Linked DNA regions of Homo sapiens. The protein of the gene in region 3 interacts with the protein of the main gene of each other region in a biochemical or structural test. Each region holds a gene or a part of one and is shown on either strand. Other genes may lie near its edges.

Region 1 (8,696 bases), on a different chromosome or scaffold from region 3:
GTATCAAATTGCTTTCTCATAGTACTGAATTGTATGAAAGTTGGTGGTATAAATGTCTTGAAATTCATCTCTAACCTTTTTGAAATGGACATTCTTATCCGCCAAATGCAGTGGTTAAATGGATAAAACTGTTTATCTTGAAATTTTTATTGGCTCTAATGATTTTCTGAATTTCCCTGAAATGATTGGTATATCCAGTGATTGACAGTGACCAGTTTCCAAATCTTTTTTTTTTTTTTTTTTTTTTTGAGATGGAGTCTCACTCTGTCTCCCAGGCTGGAGCGCAGTGGCGCAACCTCAGCTTACTGCAACCTCCTCCTCCCAGGTTCAAGCGATTCTCCCACTTCAGCCTTCTAAGTAGCTGGGATTACAGGCATGCGCCACCACGCTTGACTAATTTTTGTATTTTTTTTAGTAGAGACAGGGTTTCACCATGTTGGCCAGGCTGGTCTTGAACTCCTACCTCAAGTGATTGGCCTGCCTTGGCCTCCCAAAGTGCTGGGATTACAGGCGTGAGCCACTGCACCCGGCCCACTTTCCATATCTTTAACTCTGTGTTATTCATTCACTTAGCAGATGTTTAATGAGTGCCTACTAAATGTCAGGCACTGTTATCAATTGTTGCCCTTACATTGTCCATACAGGTTGAGCATCCCACATGTGAATATCCAAAATCCCAAATGCTCCAAAATCCACAAAACTTTATGAGCCTTTTTCATTACATGATGCTGGAAGGGAATGCTCATTGGAGCATTTTGAATTTCAGATGTTGGATTTTAGGATTTGGGATGCTCAACTATAACTAATTGTGCAGATTTTCTAAAATATGAAAAAAATTTGAAGTCCAAAACAGTTCTAGTCCCAATCATTTTGGATAAGAGATACTCAGCCTGCATTTCTGATGGATTCTATGTGCATGTATTTTTAGTTAGGAGTAAGATAAAGATGAAATACCCTGCTTTCTTCTTTTCTAAAAAGGATGTTTTCGTTCCTTGTGACCTTTTAACTCTATCTTTGCTTTTCCTCAGAGGCAGCCCCAACTGAATCAGATCAAATGTCAGAAGTGGAAGCCCTATCTGTGGAACTCAAGCATTACATTCAGGAGGATAACTGGCGGTTTGAGCAGGAAGTAGAGGAGTGGGAAGAAGAGCAGTCTTGCAAAATCCCTCAAATGGAGTCCTCCACCAACTCCTCATCACAGGACTACTCTACATCACAAGGTATCTGAGAAGGCATTTATGCCAGTGATCCAGTAACATCTCATGCTGTACTCCCCTAGCCAGCCCTATACCCTTCAGCTGGCTAGGTGATGCCACAGTCTTCACAGTATATTTCATATACAGTTGGTATGCCAGGTACAACCTGATGGAATGAATTGTGGCATTAGAATGTGATTTCTGATGAACAGAAGCAGTATCAGAAAGACTAACTACCTGTGACCTTCACTGTGTATATAGTTTTGCTTATTTCCCAGGTTATGGGAGAAACTATGATAGGGTTAATAGGTAGACTTTATGAAAACCATTCTCCAAAGGTGATCTTCCTAAAAGATGCTTGTTTGTAGAAAGTTTTCTTAATGGATAGAAATATGACAAAGTTGGGAGTGCATTAAATTTTACAGAATCATCTGTGGGTTCAAAGTTTACAGACTTTATCAATAGAGTTCTTGCTGAAGTAGCCATTTCTTATAGTTATTAATTTCTAGGGAAAATCTGCATAGGCTTTTGTAAAAAGCTGTGTTAACAGGGTTGTATATTAAACTGTATACATTCTGCTTGCTTTTTATCTGAGTGTTCTAGACTATTTATCATTAGATGCTAAGACCTTTGTTCAATTCTTTATCAGAGCCTTCAGTAGCCTCTTCTCATGGGGTTCGCTGCTTGTCGTCTGAGCATGCTGTGATTGTAAAGGAGCAAACTGCCCAGGCTATTGCAAACACAGCCCGTGCCTATGAGAAGAGCGGTGTAGAAGCGGCACTGAGTGAGGTGAGAATGACTGGGAAGCCCAAGTTCAGGAGAGCCGGGCTTTCAGCAGCGATGGCCAGTTTTCTCACATTTCTATTATTCTGTGTCTCTGCTGCCTTTAACCAACCCCTATTTATTTCTCCTGTTTTTTCTTACTCTTTCTCCCCACTCTGCTGCCACAGCTTAAAGAAGCTGAACCCAAGAAGCCCATGCCCCAGGAAACAAACCTTGCAGAGCAGTCAGAACAGCCCCCAAAGGCTAATGATGCAGAGTCTACTGCCCAGCCTAATTCTGAGGTCTCTGAAGTCGAGATTCCCAGTGTGGGAAGGATTCTGGTTAGATCTGATGCAGATGGATATGATGAGGAGGTACAGAGATGAGTGCAGGATATAGTTGTTTGTTGTCAGTCTTATATTTCCTTCTCTTGTGACTATATTAAGGTATCTGCCAATAGCTGATATTTTCTCGTTGCAAAAAATGATTGTCAAGAAAGCCTATTTGGTTTTGACCTTAGTTACCATTATTTAAAAGATAGCCATGTTTCTATTGTATAGCGCTCCCAGCATATGTATATCTACCCAGGCTTATACTTAATGGGGCCACTGCAGAGTCTAGATGGCTCAGAAAAGTAAAATTAAGTTCCCTTTTTGGTATTATGGACAAAAGATTGCCTTCTAATTTAAAATAGGGAATCTTTTTTTTGGATATTAGTCCATTGTTTTACCTCCAGATATAAATTTTTCAGTTGTCCAGTGAGCTAAACAAATGTGGATTGAAGTTATTTTTAATTGTAAAGGAATTCTATAGGAAGAAGCTATAGAACCCCAAGTTGTTTGTTGTCTGTCTCCTCTTCAGTTGCACTGCACATAAACAATAATGAATTCTGTCTCTCTCAGATTTCTGTTTTTTTTCTGTGGGGTATTTAAAAAAAAAAATCATTGACAAGGCTGGGCACGGAGGTTTACGCCTATAATCCCAGCCCTTTGGGAGGCCAAGGCGGGTGGATCACCTCGGGTCGGGAGTTCAAGACCAGCCTGGCCAACATGGTGAAACCCCTGTCTCTACTAAAAATACAAAAATTAGCTGGGCATGGTGGCATACACCTATAATCCCAGCTACTTGGGAGGCTGAGGCAGGAGAACCGCTTGAACCCGGGAGGCGGAGGTTGCAGTGAGCTGAGATCACGCCATTGCACTCCAGCCTGGGCGACAGAGCGAGACTCTGTCTCCCAAAAAAAAAAAAAGTCCTTGAAAAGTTTTTACTTTATGGAGTCATATTTGTATAGTCGCTAGTTTCCAGACTATTTTAAATGTACTGTTTATCCTAGTAAAACTCTAAAGTATTTGTGTGTTTAAGATATACACCCAAAGTACAGAACTAAATTGGAATTCTGACCTTAGACACTTCCCCTCTGAGAACTATAATTTAACTTAATTCTTCAGCAGTGCCATATTGGGAGATATTTTTAGGCATACATCTTTCTTTATCCTACTGAATTAGAACATAGAGCGTAGGAATAGCTTGTCTTGGGCAGGGTGTTGACATTATATAGAAGGACAGAGGCAGTGGGTGCACATAGGAATGGGTGTGTGAAACTCAGCTTGCAATACATGCTGGCCAAAGAGCACACTGCTCTGCTGCCCTTTAGCACTCTGTTCAGCCTGCTTTCATACAGTCTTCTGCTGAACCTTTCTTCTCTCCTTTCTCTCTGTGTTTTGTGCCCCCTTGTGGTAGGTGATGCTGAGCCCTGCCATGCAAGGGGTCATCCTGGCCATAGCTAAAGCCCGTCAGACCTTTGACCGAGATGGGTCTGAAGCAGGGCTGATTAAGGTATCTCTGTTTTTAAAATTCTAATTCTTACAATATAGGCATCATAATATTGGGGAAATAATTCTATAAGAAGGGAAAAAATGGGGTTAAGGCTGGGTGTGGTGGTGTGTGCATGTAGTCCCAGCTACTCAGGAAGCTGAAGTAGAGGCTCACTTGAGCTCAGGAGTTGGAGGCTGAAATGTACTGTGATTGCACCACTGCACTCCAGCCTGGGCAACATAATGAGATCCCATCTCTTTAAAAATAAAAAGGACTGGGCACAGTGGCTCACACCTGTAATTTAGCACTTTGGGAGGCCCAGGAGGGAGGCTTGCTTGAAGCCAGGAGTTCAAAACCAGCCGGGTCAACATAGTGAGACCCCCATCTCTACTAAGGAATTTTTTTTTTTTTTAATTAGCTGGGCATGGTAGCACATACCTGTAGTCCCAGCTAATTTGGAGGCTGAGGCAGGAGGATCACTTGAGCCCAGGTGTTCAAGGTTGCAGTGAACCATGATTGTGCCACTGCATTCCAGTCTGGGTGACAGAGTGAGACCCTGTCTCCAAAAAATAAAAAAAAAGTCTTCTGTGAAGTGAAATATGAGACTTCCTTTCCTGTCCAACTGATGAACAAGCTGTTCACTTCTCTTCTCTTGACCCTAACCCAGCCTTGGCTAGCAGTAACATTCTCTGTGACACCTAGCCTAGAGGGCTTTTCATTGTTGTTGTTAGGAGTTGTCTGTTAGTAACACTGAGTTAGATTGTGCCTTTGTAATTTTGAGGCCATAACAAAGTAGGCTGTGTTTTTAAAAATACTTGAGTAAAATTGCATTTGTATAGATTCTTTAAGTTTAAGTCATTGACACACAAGGATCTGCCTTTTATAACAATTAAAACTAAATATTTGTTTTTCTGAGAACTTTATGAGAAAACTGAATTTCTTAAGAGTACAGTAGGCTGGGCGCAGTGGCTCATGCCTGTAATCCCAGCACTTTGGGAGGCCAAAGTGGGTGGATTGCTTGAGCTCAGGAGTTTGAGACCAGCCTGGGCAACATGGCGAAACCCAATCTCTATCAAAAATACAAAAATTAACTGGGCATGGTGGTATATGCCTGTAGTCCCAGCTACTTGGGAGGCTGAGGTGGGAGGATCACCTGAGCCCAGGAGTTCAGGGCTGCAGTGAGCTGTGATCATGTCACTGAACTCCAGCCTGGGTGACAAAGTGATACTCTGTCTCAAAAAAAAAAAAAAGTACAGTATGTTTTTGGTGCCAGAATGCTAAAAGAGTTTCATCCCTTATGAAATGCAAGAAACTTAAAAATTCCATAGTTGTTTTTGTAATTCGATATGAATTTTTTAGAAGTCTTTTTAGAGTCAAGAGACTGCCTAGCTCCTAGGCATCAATTTCTGTGTGCAGAAGCCCACAGCACACTATTTTCTAACCATTGATTCTGCCCTTAATAGGCATTCCATGAAGAATACTCCAGGCTCTATCAGCTTGCCAAAGAGACCCCCACCTCTCACAGTGATCCTCGACTTCAGCATGTCCTTGTCTACTTTTTCCAAAATGAAGCACCCAAAAGGGTAGTAGAACGAACCCTTCTGGAACAGTTTGCAGATAAAAATCTTAGCTATGATGAAAGGTGAGAAGAGAATATTCAGGTGAATCCCTTGGTCTGGGTTGGGCTAGATGGACTCCTCTGTTGGGGAAGTTTTGCCCTGTGCCTTTTCATTGCTTTCTGAACTTTGTCCCACACAGATCAATCAGCATTATGAAGGTGGCTCAAGCGAAACTGAAGGAAATTGGTCCAGATGACATGAATATGGAAGAGTACAAGGTAAAGTGTTTTCTTTAAGTCTATAGAGCAAAAACATTAATTCCTGAGGTAAATGGTACCTGAGGCAAAATAAACAATTTTGTGCTATTACAAACTGACTTGTTCTTCCACTTTCCCCTCAAAATCCTGGTAAAGAATGGATAAATGATATTTTCTTGCCCTCAGAATAGCAGGTCTCTTTATTTTCATTCTTCATTTAGAGTGAGTCAACATTTCACTTCCCTTAAATACCTATTTTAGCCTTGTCCTAGGCAGTAAAATTCTTGAAATCATGCTTTTGGTTTGTTTTAAATGATAAAGTTTTAAAAATACGCATTAAAATACATAGCTACACATGTTTTCAATTGCATCCCATGTAAAACAATGTTATGTACCACCCAAGGTGTATTCACCACACTTACTGAACTTGAACTTGCTCTGTATGACTAGAAATGTCCGTGTCCTTCCATATTTTCAATATCTGGATGGTTTTACCAGTCCTAAAGAGGTCATTCACTTAAGCTAGAGCTGAATATCTTTTACATAGCTGTTAGAAATTAGGATAAAATCCGAAGCTCGTAGGAAATAAGTACTTCTGTTACTCAAGTGAAAGGAACAGAACATTGAAAATTAAGGTCAGTGGTAGACTTTTATTTTAAATGTTGAGTAGGTTTTTATCTGAAAGCTTTTGTTTGTTATTTTTGTGGCTAGCCAGATGTGCTCAGTAAATATTTGTAATGAATTTAAAACTTAGATGGGAAGGACACTAACAATCTATTATGATCATGATTATTAATAATCGTCATTCTTTTTCAGAAGTGGCATGAAGATTATAGTTTGTTCCGAAAAGTGTCTGTGTATCTCCTAACAGGCCTAGAACTCTATCAAAAAGGAAAGTATGTTGGCCTTTTATTTTACCAAGATTATTAGTCAGGATGCTGTTCTCTGTAGATGCCTACCTGGGAATACTAAGAGTCACAGCCATGCATAACCTCCCTTGTCACATACACTAGTGTGCCTCTTCTCTTGCAGTGCTTTGGTTTTGCTCTAAACATCACACATGGTTTTTCATCCTTCAAATGATTAGATGTATTAGCTGCGAGATAATATTGTGCCAGGCTGTCTTTGTGATCAATGAAGATGAACTCAGAAAATGAATTTTTGAGTTGACATAGACCCTAGTGAGCATTTCTTGTTTTAGAGATGGGAAAACCTGAGGCCTAGGGAAGTTTCATATTTGCTTTGGATGGCTAGGCCAATTTGTAGAAGAGATGAGACTGGCTACGGTCTTTGGTCCTTCACTTTTTCAGAATTGCAGCCAAGTAGGTTCTTGAAATGGGGAAAAGTGAGGTCTAAGCCCTAGATTTTAGTAAAAGAGCACTCAGCTGTTGTTTATCTCCCATTTTTCTAAGGTACCAAGAGGCACTTTCCTACCTGGTATATGCCTACCAGAGCAATGCTGCCCTGCTGATGAAGGGGCCCCGCCGGGGGGTCAAAGAATCCGTGATTGCTTTATACCGAAGAAAATGCCTTCTGGTTTGTACTGTTTGTAAAGCCTTAAGGTTTTTTTGTTGTTTACCTCTGCTCCTTGAAGCCAGGAAAATATATGGCTTTCAAAACAGACTATCTCCAACAGGTTGTAGATTTCCCCCCAAAATTCTCATGAACAGTTTTACATTGGAACAGGTTTTTTTTCAGTTACTTTTAGTGAATGTCATTCTTCTTCAATGATAACTGATAGAAGTTAAGATGAGAATCAGTCATCCCTCTGTGTGCCCTTCATGTATGCCTGCATTATAGATTTTATCACATTGCTTTCCTACTAGGTTGTAAATTCCTTGAGCTCAGATCCTTTTCTCACTCAGCCATTTCCTCTGTGCCTGTCATGTAGGAACCATGTAATAAATGTGTGTGGAAGGAATGCAGCATTTTTTCCATGTTCACATTTAAGCTGGTAGACTTAAAGTTTTAGTGACTTCTGACACTCCATTTTTTTAAAATAAAGGTAGGAACTGTAAGAATTGGTCCTGCTGTTCTGATAACATCATTGTCACATACTAGTGAAGACTAACTCTCTCCTGGCCTGATTTGCACTGTATAACTACATGGAAAGGCAGACCTACATCCCCTTGCCTCCCCAGGGGTTTATGTGATGTGTGTCCTTTGGAGAACTGTAAAGGGGTGGCCTGCCTTCAGAGTGTGGGCTTGTGTGTGTTTTCACCAATACCCAGCAAATTTGCCCTTCACAGAAGTCAGGCCAATATTTCTACCACTGCCTTTACCTTGTTCATACCGAATGGGTGAGATTAAGTCATGACATATACTCAATAGCTTTATTTTCTGATTTATACTTTGACATCTGTATTAGTTATAGGTGTGGCAGGGCCACTTTGAAGCTGAAAAGGGATCTTGTTGGTTTGATGGATCTGAATTTTATTAGAGCCATGTTTTTATATTTTAAATCACCAAATAGATTGACATTTTGAATATCCTACTCAGCTTCTGAAGTAATGCAATTATAGGGATTTAGACTCTTTCCATTATTGAGTCCCAACCCCTAGTGTGCATCAGAATCATATAGGGAGCTTTCAGACAGTCGTGAAGCTCAGGCCTCTCCCTAGCAATTAAACCAGAATCCCTGGGAAGGGCCCTGGGCATCAGTGTGTCTTCTGCAGGTGATTCTGATGCTCAGAGGAGATAGACAACCAGTGAACAGGTCTTTGGTTGAAACAGGTGTTAAGCATGACCTTGACTTACAAGTTTAGGCCAATGGGTCATAAACTTTACAGCATTAGAATCACTTTGGGAGCTTTCATAAAATCCCAGTGTCCCGGTCATCTAAACACTAATTAAATCAGCTTATCAGAAGTGGGAACCAGGCATCAGTAGTTTTTAAAGATCCCTAAGTACATCCAATGTGCAGTAAAGTTTGGGAACCACTTGTTTAGACTGTTATTAAAGAGATATTTATCTTTTTCAGACTCTTCCCCACCTAATTCTACCTTTTATCTGTAGGAGCTGAATGCCAAAGCAGCTTCTCTTTTTGAAACAAATGATGATCACTCCGTAACTGAGGGCATTAATGTGATGAATGAACTGATCATCCC
Region 2 (8,107 bases), on a different chromosome or scaffold from region 3:
GGCGACTCCAGCCATCCCCATGAGACCAGAGCTCCCCAGCCTTCACCGGCCGCATTTCTTGGTGTTGCATTCCTGGCTCTATCTCTTCTGAGTTTATGAAAGTTTCCCCTCAGCAACACCCCACTCTTTCTGTAGAAGAAACTCTCCTGTTCTTAAAATTCTTAGGAGGCCAGTGCAGCCTGGAGGCAGCGGCCCCTTGTCTGCTCTCCTTCATTTCTGATTCCTCTTCCCAGGCACTGACCCACCTCGCTGCTTCCCGACCTCACTCACCTCCACTTCTCAGCCCCGCATTCCTCAGTTCTGACTTGCATCCCGCTGCTGCCCAGGCCTGACTTCTACCCTGCCAGAGCTCCCCAGCTCTGGCCCTTCCCCTGCCCTTGCTTCCTAATCCAGGCCTCCCGCCCTCACTCACCCCTAACACGGGCCTCTCCGCTGCTTTTGTTTCCTAGCCTAACCATGCCAGGGTCCCGGGCCTCCACGGCTTCTGCTTCTGCCGCAGTCTCTGCGGCCCGGCCCCGCCAGCACCAGAAATCCATGTCGGCCTCCGTGCACCCCAACAAGGCCTCTGGGCTGCCCCCCACGGAGAGTAACTGTGAGGTGCCGCGGCCCAGGCAAGTGTGCTGGGGCAGCTGGTGCACCTGCTGCCCTCAGCCCACCCTACCCCCTTGCCCCAACAATTTCTTCTTCCCACTTGGGGGTCCTGCTGTGTTCTTGTCATCTTAGCCACAAGAAATGGGTCTGTCCCCTGCGGCCAGGAAGTGGAGGGAACAAAAAAGAGCATTAATGCCCCTCTTTTCCAGTTCTCCCTCTCAGAACAGGTATGCAGGAAGCTGTCCTAAGGCTCCAAAGGGAAACCTTTTTGTTCTGAACCTTCCAGGGTTTCCTTAGGGACCCCGGGGATAGTCGGCATCACAGGGACTCAATCCTCAAGGGTTGGTCCCCATTGCCGCCTTGAGGGTCCAGTCTGCCCGGCTCCCAGGGAGCCCGCTGTCTCCAGCCTAAACCACACTCCACACAGGGGTCCTTCCTTGCCTCCCTCCCTCCCTTCCCAAACCATCTCCTTCCACTTCCACGAGACTTCCTTCTCACCACTGTCCTCAGTAGTCACACCCTTCCTTCTGTGTCCTCGTGATGGCTGCCTCTGCCCTAGCATCCCCCTCCCTGTCCCCACCACAGGGTGTCCAGGTGCCCAGTGATGGCTGTCCTGTACCCTAATTCGTCCCCCTCAACCCCACTTCTCTTCCCACAGCACAGCCCCCCAGCGTGTCCCTGTTGCCTCCCCATCCGCCCACAACATCAGCAGCAGTGGTGGAGCCCCAGACCGAACTAACTTCCCCCGGGGTGTGTCCAGCCGAAGCACCTTCCATGCTGGGCAGCTCCGACAGGTGCGGGACCAGCAGAATTTGCCCTACGGTGTGACCCCAGCCTCTCCCTCTGGCCACAGCCAGGGCCGGCGGGGGGCCTCTGGGAGCATCTTCAGCAAGTTCACCTCCAAGTTTGTACGCAGGTAAGCAAGGAGCTTTGGGTGGCAGAGAGGCTCAGGCCAGGCCTTCCTGCTTTACTCGGGGTGGGTTGGGGGTTGGGGGTTGGGGTTTGGGACACTCTGTACCGGTATTGGGTCCTGGGGTTAGAAGAGGCTTCAGGAAGCACAAGAAATTAGGTCTTTGTCAACACCTTATGTGCCCAGGCCCACCCCTCTTAGGCCTCTCCCCAACTCCTCACAGGCACCCCTCATTCTCTGGCCCCAAGCAGATGGCCGATGCCGCCTCCTCTCTAGGAGAGTGTGAACTCAGATGCTAAAATAAAAGCCCCCCCTTCTCTCCTGGGTTCCCATGGAAACTTATATTTGGTGACGCAGCTGCAAAGTCATGAGGCATGAGCCAGGCTGGGGCCAGCAAGGAAAATTTTGTCCTGGTCTCTTGCCCCTTTGACTGCCTCTCCCACTAGTTGGTTCTGTTTCTGGCTGCAGGCGCAGCCATGCCCTTCTGCCCGGGGGTTTTAGGGTGAAACCTATAAATGAAATCACTGGCGAGGGCCTACAGTGGCCTCTTCCCTAACCTAACTCCGATGTGCCAAAGGTTTCCTGTGTTGGACCCAGGGTGGGGATCTCTTCACGGGGTTTCTCACACCTGAGCCCCCAGCCACCACAGAGGTGCAGCTTGAAGTGCATCCAGCCAACTGGCTGGCCTCCTGGGATGCTCCGCATCCCCATCCTGCCATTCCTCTCCCTGCCTTGGAGTAGCAGCTCAGGAAGCAGCAGGGGCTTTGAGAGAACAGGCTCGCCTGCCCTTCCTCTACGTTTCACTCCACTCTGCTGGAGGAGCCAAAGCCACTGCCCCATCCGAGCCCCAGAATGCAAGTGTGAGGCCTGCAGAGAGTGTGGGCAGGTCTGAAAGCCTGGGACTCTAGTCTCGCTGAGCGGCTCTTCCGAAAATGGGATGACCCTTGAACCTGTAAAGCCACCTCCCCCACCTGCTTATCCACATACCGTCTTGTTGGTTTTTTTTTTATTTCTTTTTTTATTTTGTCTTTTTTTTGTTTGTTTTTTTAGAAATCTGTCTTTCAGGTTTGCCAGAAGGTAGGCGTTGAGCCCGCTGTGTGTGTGTGTGTGTGTGTGTGTCTGTGTCCTGTGTCCTGCCTCCATCACTAACTCCCCTTTTCTGGCTCTTACTCTCCTCCATCTGCTTAACCAAGTCTGTGTGGCCCTCCTCTCTCTGCCATCTTAAAGGGATGAAGACTGCCTCTGATTGGGCATCAGCACAAGGCCTGCCCTCCGTGCCCCCAGTACAAACAGGCAGGGCTAAGAGGCCACATTGGCCCACTCAGGGCAAATGGCTTTAAAAATGAGGGCCTTCCTTGGGCCCACAGTTAACGCCTGTCCTCAAGTAAGGGGAGACTGTCTCAGGGAAGCCTCCCTTTAAGATTGTCTCCTCTCACCCACCCCACCCCACCCCCACTCCCTCTCACCCCAGGTTTTGGTCACAAGTGTTGGGATCCTTTCCTGCCCTTTCCCTTGTCATGTGCATGCGCTATGAGGAAGCTCCAGGGTTACAAGTGCATCTGGGATGGTATCTTGTTTGTTGTCTCCTGGGTTTCCTGAACTTCAGAGCTATGTGACCTCTTCCCCGTGGCCTATGGGATCGCAGGACTTTGGAGACACTACGGGGACCCTGGGGCCCCAAGGTTTCAGTCTGGCTCCCCCAGACCTTAGGAGCTTTTGTCTCACAAATGGAGCACAGCACCCCCTCCTGGCAGCTCCTGCAGAACTAGCCCCACCCACCCGCACCCCTGCCCCAGCACCCCTGCCACCAGCAGCATCTGGATAAATCAAGCCTCTTCTCCTCTAGGCTGTTTTCTCCAGATATGGCCTGTCTCTTCCAAAGTGCGGGGAGCTGGGACATTCTAGGGCAACGGCCATTCTACCCCAAGCCGTAGCAAAACAACAGGAGATCTCTGCACCCTTACTCAGGGGTCTCCCTTCACAGTCCCCTTCCTGGCTCTTTCACCCCTGGCCTTATGCTCATCCTCTCTGCAGGCCTCGGGGACCAAATACCAAGCTGAAGACCAAGGGCCAGGTTAAGAGTGCTTGTTCCCCAAGGCTGTCTGCTCAGGCCCTGCATTGGGACTGGGATGCCTGGCAGGCACATTGGTGCCACAGCTGATGGAGGAACGTCCAGACAGGGTCTTCAGGCTTTCCCTATCCCCTCCTCCTCCCACCCAGCTGTTGACTGCATGACTGGCTGCTGCCTCAAGGGGCCCCAGCAGGGGGCTGCCCCACAGGGGGTCTGGAGAGAGCAGGGAGGGTGCCTTCCTCGCACAGCCGGGCTCCCTGCTCGCAGTGCGCTTGTGTGCACCCCTGTGTTGGTTGTGTCTTCCTGTTTATTTCTATGTGCTGCTGCTCTTCCTCCTTCCTCTCATATCCTTCCTCCTCTGCAATCCCCAGTTTCCTAGCTCCAGACACCCATCTTCCAGCCAGGAGCTGGAGAAGCCGCTCAGCGGGGCCAGACCTCTTCCCCACCCACCCAACCAAGGTGTCTGCCCTGCCCTGCCCCACCCCACCCTCATCCTCCCTGCGTATGAGCAGATGGCCTGGCAGGCCAGCAGGTAGGGGAGTTGGGAAAGGTCGGAGGAGGCCGCCTTTTCCACTCAGCAGCAGGAAGCCATCCCCAGGTGCCTACCATGCAGACCCAGGCCTTGGCACTTTGAGTCTCCTGACAGGCCCTTGCGTAGCCACGGCCCCTCCTCCTACAGAGATTCAAAGCATTGCAGCCCCTTTCCTCCAAAAGGACTGCAGTCCTGAGACCCTAGCGTGTGGCTCCAAAAACGCACTCACACCTGCAACCCCCAGAACAGCGCGTGAGCCCTGGCTGTGGGGGAGCAGCCTCGTGCCGGGCCGTGTGCTCAGTGTGCTCAGTGAAGTGCGTGCACAGCCACTCCCCCTCCTCCCCCAGAGCAGAGGCTCCTTCTCCCCGGCACAGATCTGGGAATGTGGGGAGGGACAAGCCCCATGTGCTGGGCTCCCTGCTGGAAAGGAATGGTTGAGCCGCCAGTGTGAGGTGCTGCAGAGCCCTGTTGGCTTGCCAGGTGATGGGCAGAGGGCCCTGGGCTTGGGTCCTGCCCACCCACTGGTGGCACCTCCCCAGACCCACTCTCATCTGGGTCTGTGGCGGCGGAAGGAGCGAGAGATCCCAGCACTAAACTCTCCCTCGCTCTGTTTTTTGAGGAACCTGAATGAACCTGAAAGCAAAGACCGAGTGGAGACGCTCAGGTGAGAGGGCTGGAGCCAGCACTGGCCCTGCCCGGGCCACCGGGCTTGCCACAGCCTCCTGCTCCTCTCTTCCTTCTGCCACTTGGCTCTTCCTCCCGTGGTTCTGCCCTGTCCCTACCCTCTGGGGCCTCCCTTTCCTCAGAGAGTTTCCCCTTCCCAAACCCAATTGCAGGAGTTACGGGCCCTTCTCCTCAGGTCTGGTATATTCTGGAAGTCGGAGTTCTGGGTCGGGTGGTTGGGGCTACAGATTCCTACCCCTGGACTATCCCACCTCCCTGTGCTCGGAGGCTTCTTTCTGGAGAGAGAGTCTGTGCTCGTGCTGTTGAGGGCACTGGTGTCTTCCCTGACCCCACCCCGCCTACCCCAAGGCTGGCTTCTCCTCCCCTTCGCTGTCCTGAGAGATGGGGGTTGGAGGACTGCCACCCTCCGCCCCCGCAGGCCAGGGGCCACGCCTGGCTGCTCCTGCTCCCTCCCGCTCTCCTCTCTGGGCTCAGGGGCTGTCTGCCAGGGTGGCTCTCCTGGGGTGGGGTGCCTCAGCCCCCCCGTGACGCCCGCCTCTGCCCTCTCCACAGACCTCACGTGGTGGGCAGTGGCGGCAACGACAAAGAAAAGGAAGAATTTCGGGAGGCCAAGCCCCGCTCCCTCCGCTTCACGTGGAGTATGAAGACCACGAGCTCCATGGAGCCCAACGAGATGATGCGGGAGATCCGCAAGGTGCTGGACGCGAACAGCTGCCAGAGCGAGCTGCATGAGAAGTACATGCTGCTGTGCATGCACGGCACGCCGGGCCACGAGGACTTCGTGCAGTGGGAGATGGAGGTGTGCAAACTGCCGCGGCTCTCTCTCAACGGGGTTCGATTTAAGCGGATATCGGGCACCTCCATGGCCTTCAAAAACATTGCCTCCAAAATAGCCAACGAGCTGAAGCTTTAACAGGCTGCCAGGAGCGGGGGCGGCGGGGGCGGGCCAGCTGGACGGGCTGCCGGCCGCTGCGCCGCCCCACCTGGGCGAGACTGCAGCGATGGATTGGTGTGTCTCCCCTGCTGGCACTTCTCCCCTCCCTGGCCCTTCTCAGTTTTCTCTTACATGTTTGTGGGGGGTGGGAGATTGTTCTCCAGCACCCCACATTCACCCCTGCCCAGAGATTCCCCCTTCTCCTCTCCCCTACTGGAGGCAAAGGAAGGGGAGGGTGGATGGGGGGGCAGGGCTCCCCCTCGGTACTGCGGTTGCACAGAGTATTTCGCCTAAACCAAGAAATTTTTTATTACCAAAAAGAAAAAAGAAAAAAAAAATCCCAGCGGCCACCTTTCCTCCCTGCCCCATTGGGACAGTCGAGACTGGATCTGTGGGGTTTCCCGGGAGGGTGGCTCAGGGCTGGAACACTCTCAGGCAAGAGTGGTGGAGCTCCCGTCAGGCCCTCCGCCAGGCCCACTGTGGGCTTCTCCCCTCTCCTCCCTCCTTCCCCTCCAAGCAAACCACCAGAGGTGGCCTTCCCCTGACCTCAGGCCCCTGGGCTGGAGGCCTGGGCGGTGGGGCAGGGGGCGGGGGTGCTGCGCAGCCCTGCAGTGGGTGGGGCTGGGGGCTGCTCCGGGGCTGCTGAGGCTGGAGGGCCGGCACAAGGCTCCGCCTCCCTCCACACTGTACCCTCTGCCCCTCCTCCCCAGAGCTGGGCATTTCCTTCCACAAGCTGCTGTGGGGACGTGTGTTCCCTCAAAGTCTGTGCCATCTTCTCCCACCCCTCCCGGGTAGAAGGAGGGGCTGACCCCAGGGCTGGGAGAGGGGAGGGGACTGGAGGGCAGACTGGCTTCTCGGTCCCCAGGGGGCCGCTTGGGCTGTTGGTCTCCAGAGCAGGGCCACTGGGCACTCTGTGATGGGGGAGCCTTTGTCTGAAAGCACAGCCCCCTCGCCCTTCCTCTCCCCATGGCTTCCCCTTCATTGGCATTAATCTGGGCACCAGCTCTCTCCATAGCAGTGACTTCCCTCACCACTCTCATCTCTCAGCCTTGCCTTTTCTTCCTGACACTGTCGCCCCCTCCTCTCAGGAGACACTGCCGAGGGCCACCTGGCAGAAGGCTGAGTTAGGCAGCAGGGCCGGGAGCGTCTGCCCTCCACAGGGTGGGGGACAGATAGGCTAAGCGACTCCCAGCTTGCTACCCTCAGTGGCCAGTGTGGGCGTGGGCGGTTTGGGGCGCTTGGCTGGTGGTGGCCACTGCATCCCTTAATTTATTTCTCTGCTGTTTCTGTTCTTGAGAAATTGGGGGTGGGAGTCCTACACAGAGGCTGCCCCTACCCTCACCTGAGTTGTACATTTTTTTGTGATGGGTTTTATTTTTTATTATTTTATTTTATTTTTTTTTTTTTTGATTTATGATGACTCCACCCCTCTTCATCACCCCCGCTCCCAGGCCAGGCTCAGCGATTAAGCCGAGCCCTTGCGTCCTAGGAAGGGGCCTTGCCAACCTCAGCCCTCCTGCCCCACACTCCTACTGCGGCTCAGACCAAGGGCTCCCCCTCCCTCCCTTCCCCCCTCCTGCCCTATGGAACAGCCCGGGTGCTCTGAGGGGGCTGGGAGGGCATGGCTTGGCTCCCAAAGGGGGTAGGGGCCCGGGGCACCCAGGCAAGGTGGCCCCTCCCCGTCTAGCCCCCTCCTCCCCAACCCTGCACTTAGTTTCTCCTCTGGATCAAACACGTAATAAAGAGAATGTTTGGAATCTGAGCTGCCTCCTCCTGTTTCTTCTCCCAGCCAGGCAGGGACCCAGTCTCCTGTGGGCAAGATGTGGCCTAGCCCACCTGCCTTGCAGGAGAGACTTGATTCCTGTCTGGGGCCAGTGCTGGGTGGGCCCAGCTCCCCACTTACCCACAGGGCACAGACAGGAAGCAAAGCCCAGGGCCCTTGCACCAAAAGGGAAAGAAAACTCAGTAAGCTTAGATTTTATTTTTTTTAATTTTTAAAAAATGTTGAAAAATAAATCCATGTCTGCATAAGTTCCCAACCCCCATTTCTCCAAGTTTCTGGAAGGTGGGCTTGGTGGGCACCCTCAGCTCCTTAGCATTTCCCAGCTGGCCCCTGAAGACAGAGCTTCTCTTCCAGCCTCTGCTGCTGTAAGGCCCCTCTGCCCACCTCCCCCCCTGCAGCCTCCCTCCCCACCTCACCCCAGACTTATTGCTAAAAGAAGGGAAAGAGGAATGAGAACAGCCAGCACACCCAACTGCCCTCTCCCCACTCCACGCTAAGGTCACTACCCCGGACACACAAAGGGCAGGACCCAGAGGCCAAGCCCCAGCAGACTAGGACACAGCCATTCCAGTACCGGCCAGGAAGCGAAAGTGCCCTCAGGC
Region 3 (7,565 bases):
AGAATAAATCCCGAATACCCAGAATAACACACAAGGGCCTCCAGACCAAGATCATCACCCATTTCTACTGGATGGACTTCTTCAGTTCTTCCTTACTTTTATTCTTCTGTTATAAAGAAGTACTTTTGTCTTTCTAACAGTCCTCTTTGGACCTTCATGTCTTCGTTCATGCTGTTTTCTCCTACTTTCAGCCAGGTATATTCCTATGATTTTTTCTAGCTCTGCTCAAACATCATTCTGTTGCTTTCTTTCTCCATTATTAACTGTTCTCCTTGATGCTTTATACCTTTACATCTTATTTTCTAAAAGCACCAAATTTGTTTATTCACTTCTATATAATAAATTTATTTTGTGCAGGGACCATGTCTTATTCACATTACAAAATCTTAGAATCTAGCAAAGAGCTGTGTAGAACAGATGTGAAATAATTTTTTGCTGCATGGATAATCAACTTCTGTGTGGTTTTATAATGTACAGTAATATTTGGTTACTCTTGCCAATCAAGGACTCTAGGATATTTTATACTATATGGATAATATTATCATAGTTTCTTTTCCTATAATCTTTTTAGAATCCCATATCAAGCAAGAAAAGTTATTGATTACATTTTATACTGCAGCTGATAAAACATAGGCATATAAACTATATAAATTATCATAATTCAAACAATAAGCCTCTAATTTATATTACGCACATATTAAGAGGGAAAAACTTTATATGCTTCCACTCCTTTTCCATTTTCCTGAAATTGCTTAGAAAAGGTATCATAGAAAAGGTGTCAGTTATATTCCTAGGTTGGCGAGAGAGTTATTGTCTTACTGATTTACATTCTATTCTTTCAAGTTGGTGGTACATGTATGCTTGTGTATGCAAATTCACTTGTGCATGCATGAGCACACGCACACACACACACCCTACCCCTAGAGAAAAGCAGATGAAGGAACTTTAAAATTTTTATACTTGTTAAAGTTCAATAGTAATACAAAACAGAGACTAATAATTGGAAAGATTATCTATTGTCCCCTCATTCCTCCAAGTGGAAAGAGTACAGTCTTAACATACTTATCTAATATACTCAAGTGTTCCACAACTCTTGTAACATTCTTCCAAACATTAATTACAATTTTTTTTCTGTTACATAGTATGCTATTCCCATCCTGCTACTAAGGAAAACAGCCCACATTATTCATATTATATACCTCAAATCTGCTAGGTCCAATTTGTCTTCTCCAGGCTGTAGAACTTCACTTGAGATGCCTTTCTGTTTAGGGATTACTTTCTAGTATTTTTTGGTTCACCTCAGAACCATCTTTAGATCATATGAAAAGAAACCAGATCTGGTATTCTAATAAATCTCTAGCTTATATTGACTAAATCAGGAAGCTACATTAAGATGCTATTTGCAATATTCCAACTACTCAGAGTCATCCTAACTATGCCTCCAAGCACTCTGTTTGGCTTTGGTCACTTTTCACTTTGAAAGCCTTCCTTTCTATTAGAAATTAAACCACATGCAAGACAGGAAGGCCTCACTCCACTTTGAAACATACTTTTACTGCTTCAGAGTAGATAAAACTACATTCTACACTATGAGCTTTTTTCCTGCTTTTTGAGCAGACACTTCTGCTCCTAGTTGGCCTGAAAACCCTAGTGTGAACGATGAATGAAAATAGTTCAATGAGGTGGACACATATTTTGACAAGAATATTTTTTATTATTGAAAAATACACAAAGGTGAAAGGTTGCTGAGCAGCTGATTTTCCATAGTACAACAGAGTATTATAAGAAAGAGGGAAATGTATCTGTTATATATGGCAGTTTACATTTCTAAGGCATTTAGGCTTAAGAGCACTAGGTCTTGCACAGCTAGGTGCATTGTCTTGAGTTTAAATATACTGAGGCACACCAGGCAGGCAAAGGATTCAAAACTATACATTAAAACTTGTTCATGCATTTGTGTCTTAGGATTTTATTCCCTACCCTCCTCATTCATTTTTTTCCCACATGGGTTTTGGAGTTGTTCATAGAACACTGGAAATAATCGACTCTTCAAGAGTTTGTTTACAATGACAACACCAATGGGACACACCAAACAGAACTACTTCACAGATACATTCTGTCTCTTACCAAAATGAAGCTCCAGTAAGAAAAACACTGATTTGCAAAGGCACAGTGGAGACAGGTTTAATGCATTAAATATAACATGAATCATTCACAATAACAAGTTTCGTGTTTCAGGGAACTTTTGTTAATACAACACAGTTGGTCACACAAAATACAAATGCTTCTGTTGATTTGTCTTGGCAACTCAGATACATCAACAGTGCTAACAGTTTAACAGCTTTGTTCTCATCTGACAGAAAATAATGGCAGTTCTGCAAGGCAAATGTTAAACCTGACCGTATGTATTTATTAGTTCCACAGTGTTTTGACAGATTATAGGAGATGGAACTCAGAGGATGCTGACACGCTCACCGAGGGCTTTCATTTCTGTTTCTTCAGTCTCAGGAGTGTCACTGTGGCTAGCACTTGGATTGATCAGGTGTGTGGGGTACTGCAGCCCCTGCTCGCCTGCATACTTCTCCCACCTCAGGTCATCACTTTCATGGGTGATGTAGCGCTCCCCGATTTTGCATTCCAGCTCTCGCAAATCTAACCAGGTCTGATAGTCCTGAAGAAGAAATTCCAAAATATTACCATAGAGATCATTACAACTCAACATACTGTTTCATATGATGTCAGTTTCTGCAATCTATGAGTTACCCTTCTCCTTCCACTCTAACAGCGCTGAATCTTTCATCACGCATCCTCAAGTGACAGTGTCGGCACCAAAGCCATCCTATTTGTCTAACCTTTGCAAATACATACTGTTTATAAGATAGCATGGATCAAAGAGTGGGCAATTAATGTTTGCAGTCAAGCAATCAGGAATGCCAGTATTCCTTTGAAATTTAATGCCTACAAATAATCTTTCAGTATTTCAGAGTATTAGTTTCCTAAAGTTTAAATTCGATGTGAAAATAATAAAGCACATCCATATACTTTGTATTTGCCATGCATTTGTTCCATATATAATAACCTAGCATTTAAAAATATAGCTTCTAAATGAGTACAGTGCATGACCAGATGGGCATCTATTTGTACATTTATCAGGATTACACATACAGATGCTTTTGAAATCTGGTCCTCTGAGGTCTGTTATGATCCTTGGTTTATTTATTTATTTTTGGTTTTGCCTTTTGGTTTTGGGCTGTGTGTGTGTGTGTATATGCGTGCGTGTATCTCTTCTATCAAATTATCCTGGTAGAGAAAAATGTTTAGAAACACTAAATTGTTATTAAATCCTATGAAGTTGCATGCATTTGAGCAAATAAATTGATATTAGAATAATCACACTTTAAAAATTATTGCAAAAGATTTCTAAATATCAAAATCCTATAAATATTTAGAAGCTCATTCAACTAAGAAAACTCAGTGATTATTGTTTACCTGTAGCCAAGGGTGGCTCAAGGTCTTATCCACACTGTAGCGCTTTCTCATTTTTACTTGCAGCAAATTGTTGATAAGATCAATGGCTGAAAAAAATTACCAGTAAAAATAGATGACAAATCTGTAACATATGCATAATTCATTTATAGTTTATTTCACATCTGCTATTTCACACAGTTAAATGCAGCATAGTGACAAGGCACTAGAACCAAAAAAAAAAATCCTCTTAAGAATACTGAAACTTTGGCCTTCATTTTATTTTGGATACTAAAAAAAAAAAAAAAAAAAAAAAAAAAAGAAGAAGTTGGAAGTAATTATGGAAGAAGTATTAGAGTCTATTGTATGATATGAATTTCAATTGGTCTACTCTTTAACACTTTCTTTAATTTAGAAATTTTGTTTATATGTACATCATTTAAATATGTCTTACAATATGGGCAGGATAAAACTAATATTCAAGATAAAGCATTTACTAATTTTGTTATAAAACATGCTGAACGTTTGAATACACACAATGGTTCACACAGTATTGAATTAAATGACAGATATCTGAACATCATATTTGTATGGAAAAAATGCATCATAACATGGGTCATATCTCATGATAAACTTGGAGCCTGAAAACCAACAGCCCAAGAAGAAAACACTTTAATTGCTTTCACTTTGCTTTTGCTTTCAAAAATAACCAATGTATTGGAATTATATCAGCCTTCATAGACTTTCTAGAGGAAGACAGGAAAGAAGTCTATTTAACAAGAAATGTTCTCTGAGGGGTTAGAACCACAATCCCTCTGGCCTAGTACTCTGCTTGTGACTGGGGAGTCTGTGAGTGTAATTTATGAAGAAAAAGTAATACTCATCGTTATCTAGTCTGAAAATCATCCTAGTTACCCACAGTATCATGTGATGGAGTTCTCACTCTCCTTTTCTGGACATTATATTTTCAGTATACGTCATTAATAGTTCATTATTTATTAAAGTCATTCCCTCACACTTCTCATTCTTGTAATAACTTCCATGTTTCTCTTTTTGAATTTTAGCATTTTCTTCCCAAAAAGAGCTTAGTGAAATCTGCCAACCTAATAGGAAGCATTTATATTTCAAAGAGTTAATTTTTGCCCTTAACCTACCCTAGGCATTATGTCTGAAAGATGGCTCTTCCTACCAAAAATCTTAATCAAACAGGCAGCTGATAAACGAAAATGAAAATTAACTCCTCATCTTTCCCTATCACCAAGTCTTGAATAGGCAGCTTTGAATCCACTTTTTGGTGTGCATCAACCTGTATGGACCTGAAGATACAGACTGTCACATGAGACCAGAGGAACAAAGACTGCTTCCTTCAATCAGAATCCTTCCCAGTGTCAGGCAAAGAAAAGTGACTTCTACAGTCTTTTGGTAATTGAGAACCATATCTCTATGGAGCTAATGTTACAAGTATTTGCCTGCCCTGAAGGGCTGTAGAGTCAAATATCAAACAATTATTTGGAGAAATGAAATGCAACAACACACATTTAAATGTTGCCTATGCCTATACACTCTTGCCTTACCTAGGATACCTGAAGAAATACAGTACTCAGTACATTTTCATATTCCAAGCATGTGTTCTCAGAGAGCTTTTAAAAGTATAGTTCTGTGAACTGCGTATAGGGCATGTGCTTTAAAATATCCATTCACATGATTTACTCACTGGTGAGTAAAGTGCACCTTCCATTCTTGCTGCTGTGAAGTCACCCGGCAAAAATGGAGGACAAGGAGTGAAGGGAGAGCTTATGTGCTATTGCAAGCTTGCTGCAGCATTACACTGCCCTAGACACTGCAGGAAATAAATTCATGTCATTAATTCACTCATTCTGTTTGGAATTCTGTAATTAGAAAGGCAGGAGTACAGTAACTCAACAAAAGGTCTCGTTTGTGCCCAAATGGGCCCCAACAGTGAACCACACTGCATAATGGGGAGGGAAGTACTATCAGAGGGGAAACTAGAAGTGTCTGAAGGGAATGGAATAAGTAAAAATGAAAAAATTGTTCTGCTGAATGAAGCATACAATCATTAGTCTGACTACGCCACAGTACCCAACCCAAGTGACCTGAGTAAGCACAACAAGGCAATGGCAACTACTTCCAAGAGAAAATGGTTAAGGATATAAGGAGAGAATTAGAGGAGAAACGTGTATGTATAAATAAATGTGTGTGTGTGTGTATACATACATTTTGTGGCTTTTGGAAGCACACAACAGAAATAATGAACTATTAAATGTTAGCACCTATAGCTAAATGTTGGGACCACGGTATTAGTGAGAAAATAGGTCCGTCATTTGTAGTTGAGAATTCTGTTCTGCTTGTTACTTTTCTGGAACTCTTAAAATATCCTTTTTATTAATCAAGTTGTATACAATCCAGCATTAACTATACCATCCAAAATGCGTTTTACTAAACATTTTTGAACACAGTTTAGAGGCTTTTTTCCTTCCAATATTCTCTTTACTGGCCATGTCTACATTGATACAATATTCATGTAATAAAATAGTCTCAGATGTATTATGTATGTATAAATCATTCATTTATCTGTTCATTCACCAAATCTTCCTTAATTCCTGTTGGCAATTACTTATGAAATAAAAAGTTAATGATCAAGCCCTGACCCCGAAAAGCTCACAATCTAGTTGCAAAGGCACATGCATGCCCCTCCCCAGACCACAGATGACATCATGACACAATACACCATTCTGAATCTTTGACCTTTAATTCATATCCTACTCAAAGCAAAAAAAAAAAAGTGTTTTCTTTTTATAACTTACTGTCATTAGTCCTATTTATGTTTTAGATGCAATGGAAAACTTTATTCTATATGACAGTTCTTTACATCTTTGGAGACAGTGATTCATTCCCCTTAATCTCACCTCTATAGTTCCTTCAGATCTTTCAGCCTGCTTAGTCCTCCTGTACACCTCGATTTTAATAGTCACTAGCTCTACTCAATGTCCCTGTTAAAATTCAGTGATCATCACTGACCAACATTTTCCTCACTAACTGCCAATTTGAATTATACGCAAATATATTATTCATATAGTCTAGGATTGAGGGGTTTTCATTCTTTTTTAAAAAATTACATTCATATTCTTATTTAGTCCTTATAACAACCCCCTGAAAGTAGTTATTATTTTAATCTCCATTTTAATAAAAGGAAAACGTGACGCTTCAAAAGGCCATGTAAGTTGGTCAAAGTCAGACAGCTCCTAGGCAATACAGCTGAATTTGAAACCCAGGGGGACTGGAATTCAAAGCCTGTGCTCTTAAACACTATGGCAGACTGCAGCCATATTATGCCATTAACTTATCATTGTAAGTGGATAATTATCTCAAAAATTAACATTTTATTTTTACAGTCATGATAATTACATTCTTAGTTATGTTTCCACCACACTTTTATGTGCTTGAACGCAAGGATGTGTGTGTATGTGTATGTACATCTCTGTGACCATAGCTCTGCCTCATATCGTTAATTCTCCTAGCTTTCTGTCATGCTCACACCGAATAAGCCCATCTGCTATGTATTAATACAATTATTAGAACTTTTTTCAGGATAAGGCCTAAACATAGGGCTTTCTGACTCTATCACAAAACACATTACCAACTGCCAGGCCTATTAATTATTCTTTGAGCAAGTCTTAAAAGCAGGCAGTGCTTCCTCCTAGAAGTATTCCTATGTAGCTCATATTTACCATCTTCTCCAAAGGCTATTTTAGGCTATTTTTTTTTTCAAATGCTTTATCATTGAGACACATCAGTTCTTGGTAAGACTCATTCTACCAATCTGGTAATCCTACTTAAAAAAAAGTGCAGTTATTCTGGAATAATACATTTTAAGTAAATTAACATTGACAAATACTGACTTTCAGTCATTTTCTTCTCAGGGCCAAGATTTGTTTTCTAAATATTTGCAAATCATCTATTTAATCATTCATTCATTCTAGAATTTTGTCAAGGATAAATACTGAGCTTCTTGTTGAATAATTTGAGAATCCATTCTTTCCCCCTTTTAGAAATTCTACTTGTCTTAAATACCTTGGTAT

What was found.
Region 1: of the proteins of PRKD1 (region 3) and USP28, one has a biochemical effect on the other in vitro, tested with the Homo sapiens proteins (one study listed by BioGRID).
Region 2: of the proteins of PRKD1 (region 3) and MARK2, one has a biochemical effect on the other in vitro, tested with the Homo sapiens proteins (one study listed by IntAct).

Annotation. Positions count from the first base shown.
Region 1 is NC_000011.10:113,801,587-113,810,282, reverse strand, and holds part of USP28 (ubiquitin carboxyl-terminal hydrolase 28), read left to right. Parts: intron 1-1,028; coding exon 1,029-1,220; intron 1,221-1,845; coding exon 1,846-1,985; intron 1,986-2,146; coding exon 2,147-2,332; intron 2,333-3,698; coding exon 3,699-3,794; intron 3,795-5,236; coding exon 5,237-5,415; intron 5,416-5,531; coding exon 5,532-5,610; intron 5,611-6,405; coding exon 6,406-6,485; intron 6,486-7,001; coding exon 7,002-7,125; intron 7,126-8,604; coding exon 8,605-8,696. UniProt on the Homo sapiens protein: Deubiquitinase involved in DNA damage response checkpoint and MYC proto-oncogene stability. Involved in DNA damage induced apoptosis by specifically deubiquitinating proteins of the DNA damage pathway such as CLSPN.
Region 2 is NC_000011.10:63,903,537-63,911,643, forward strand, and holds the end of MARK2 (serine/threonine-protein kinase MARK2), read left to right. Parts: intron 1-449; coding exon 450-611; intron 612-1,249; coding exon 1,250-1,507; intron 1,508-2,551; coding exon 2,552-2,578; intron 2,579-4,723; coding exon 4,724-4,768; intron 4,769-5,340; coding exon 5,341-5,701; 3' UTR 5,702-7,484; downstream 7,485-8,107. UniProt on the Homo sapiens protein: Serine/threonine-protein kinase. Involved in cell polarity and microtubule dynamics regulation. Phosphorylates CRTC2/TORC2, DCX, HDAC7, KIF13B, MAP2, MAP4 and RAB11FIP2. Phosphorylates the microtubule-associated protein MAPT/TAU.
Region 3 is NC_000014.9:29,574,786-29,582,350, forward strand, and holds the end of PRKD1 (serine/threonine-protein kinase D1), read right to left. Parts: intron 5,306-7,565; exon of another isoform or gene 5,180-5,305; intron 3,576-5,179; coding exon 3,490-3,575; intron 2,672-3,489; coding exon 2,453-2,671; 3' UTR 1,694-2,452; downstream 1-1,693.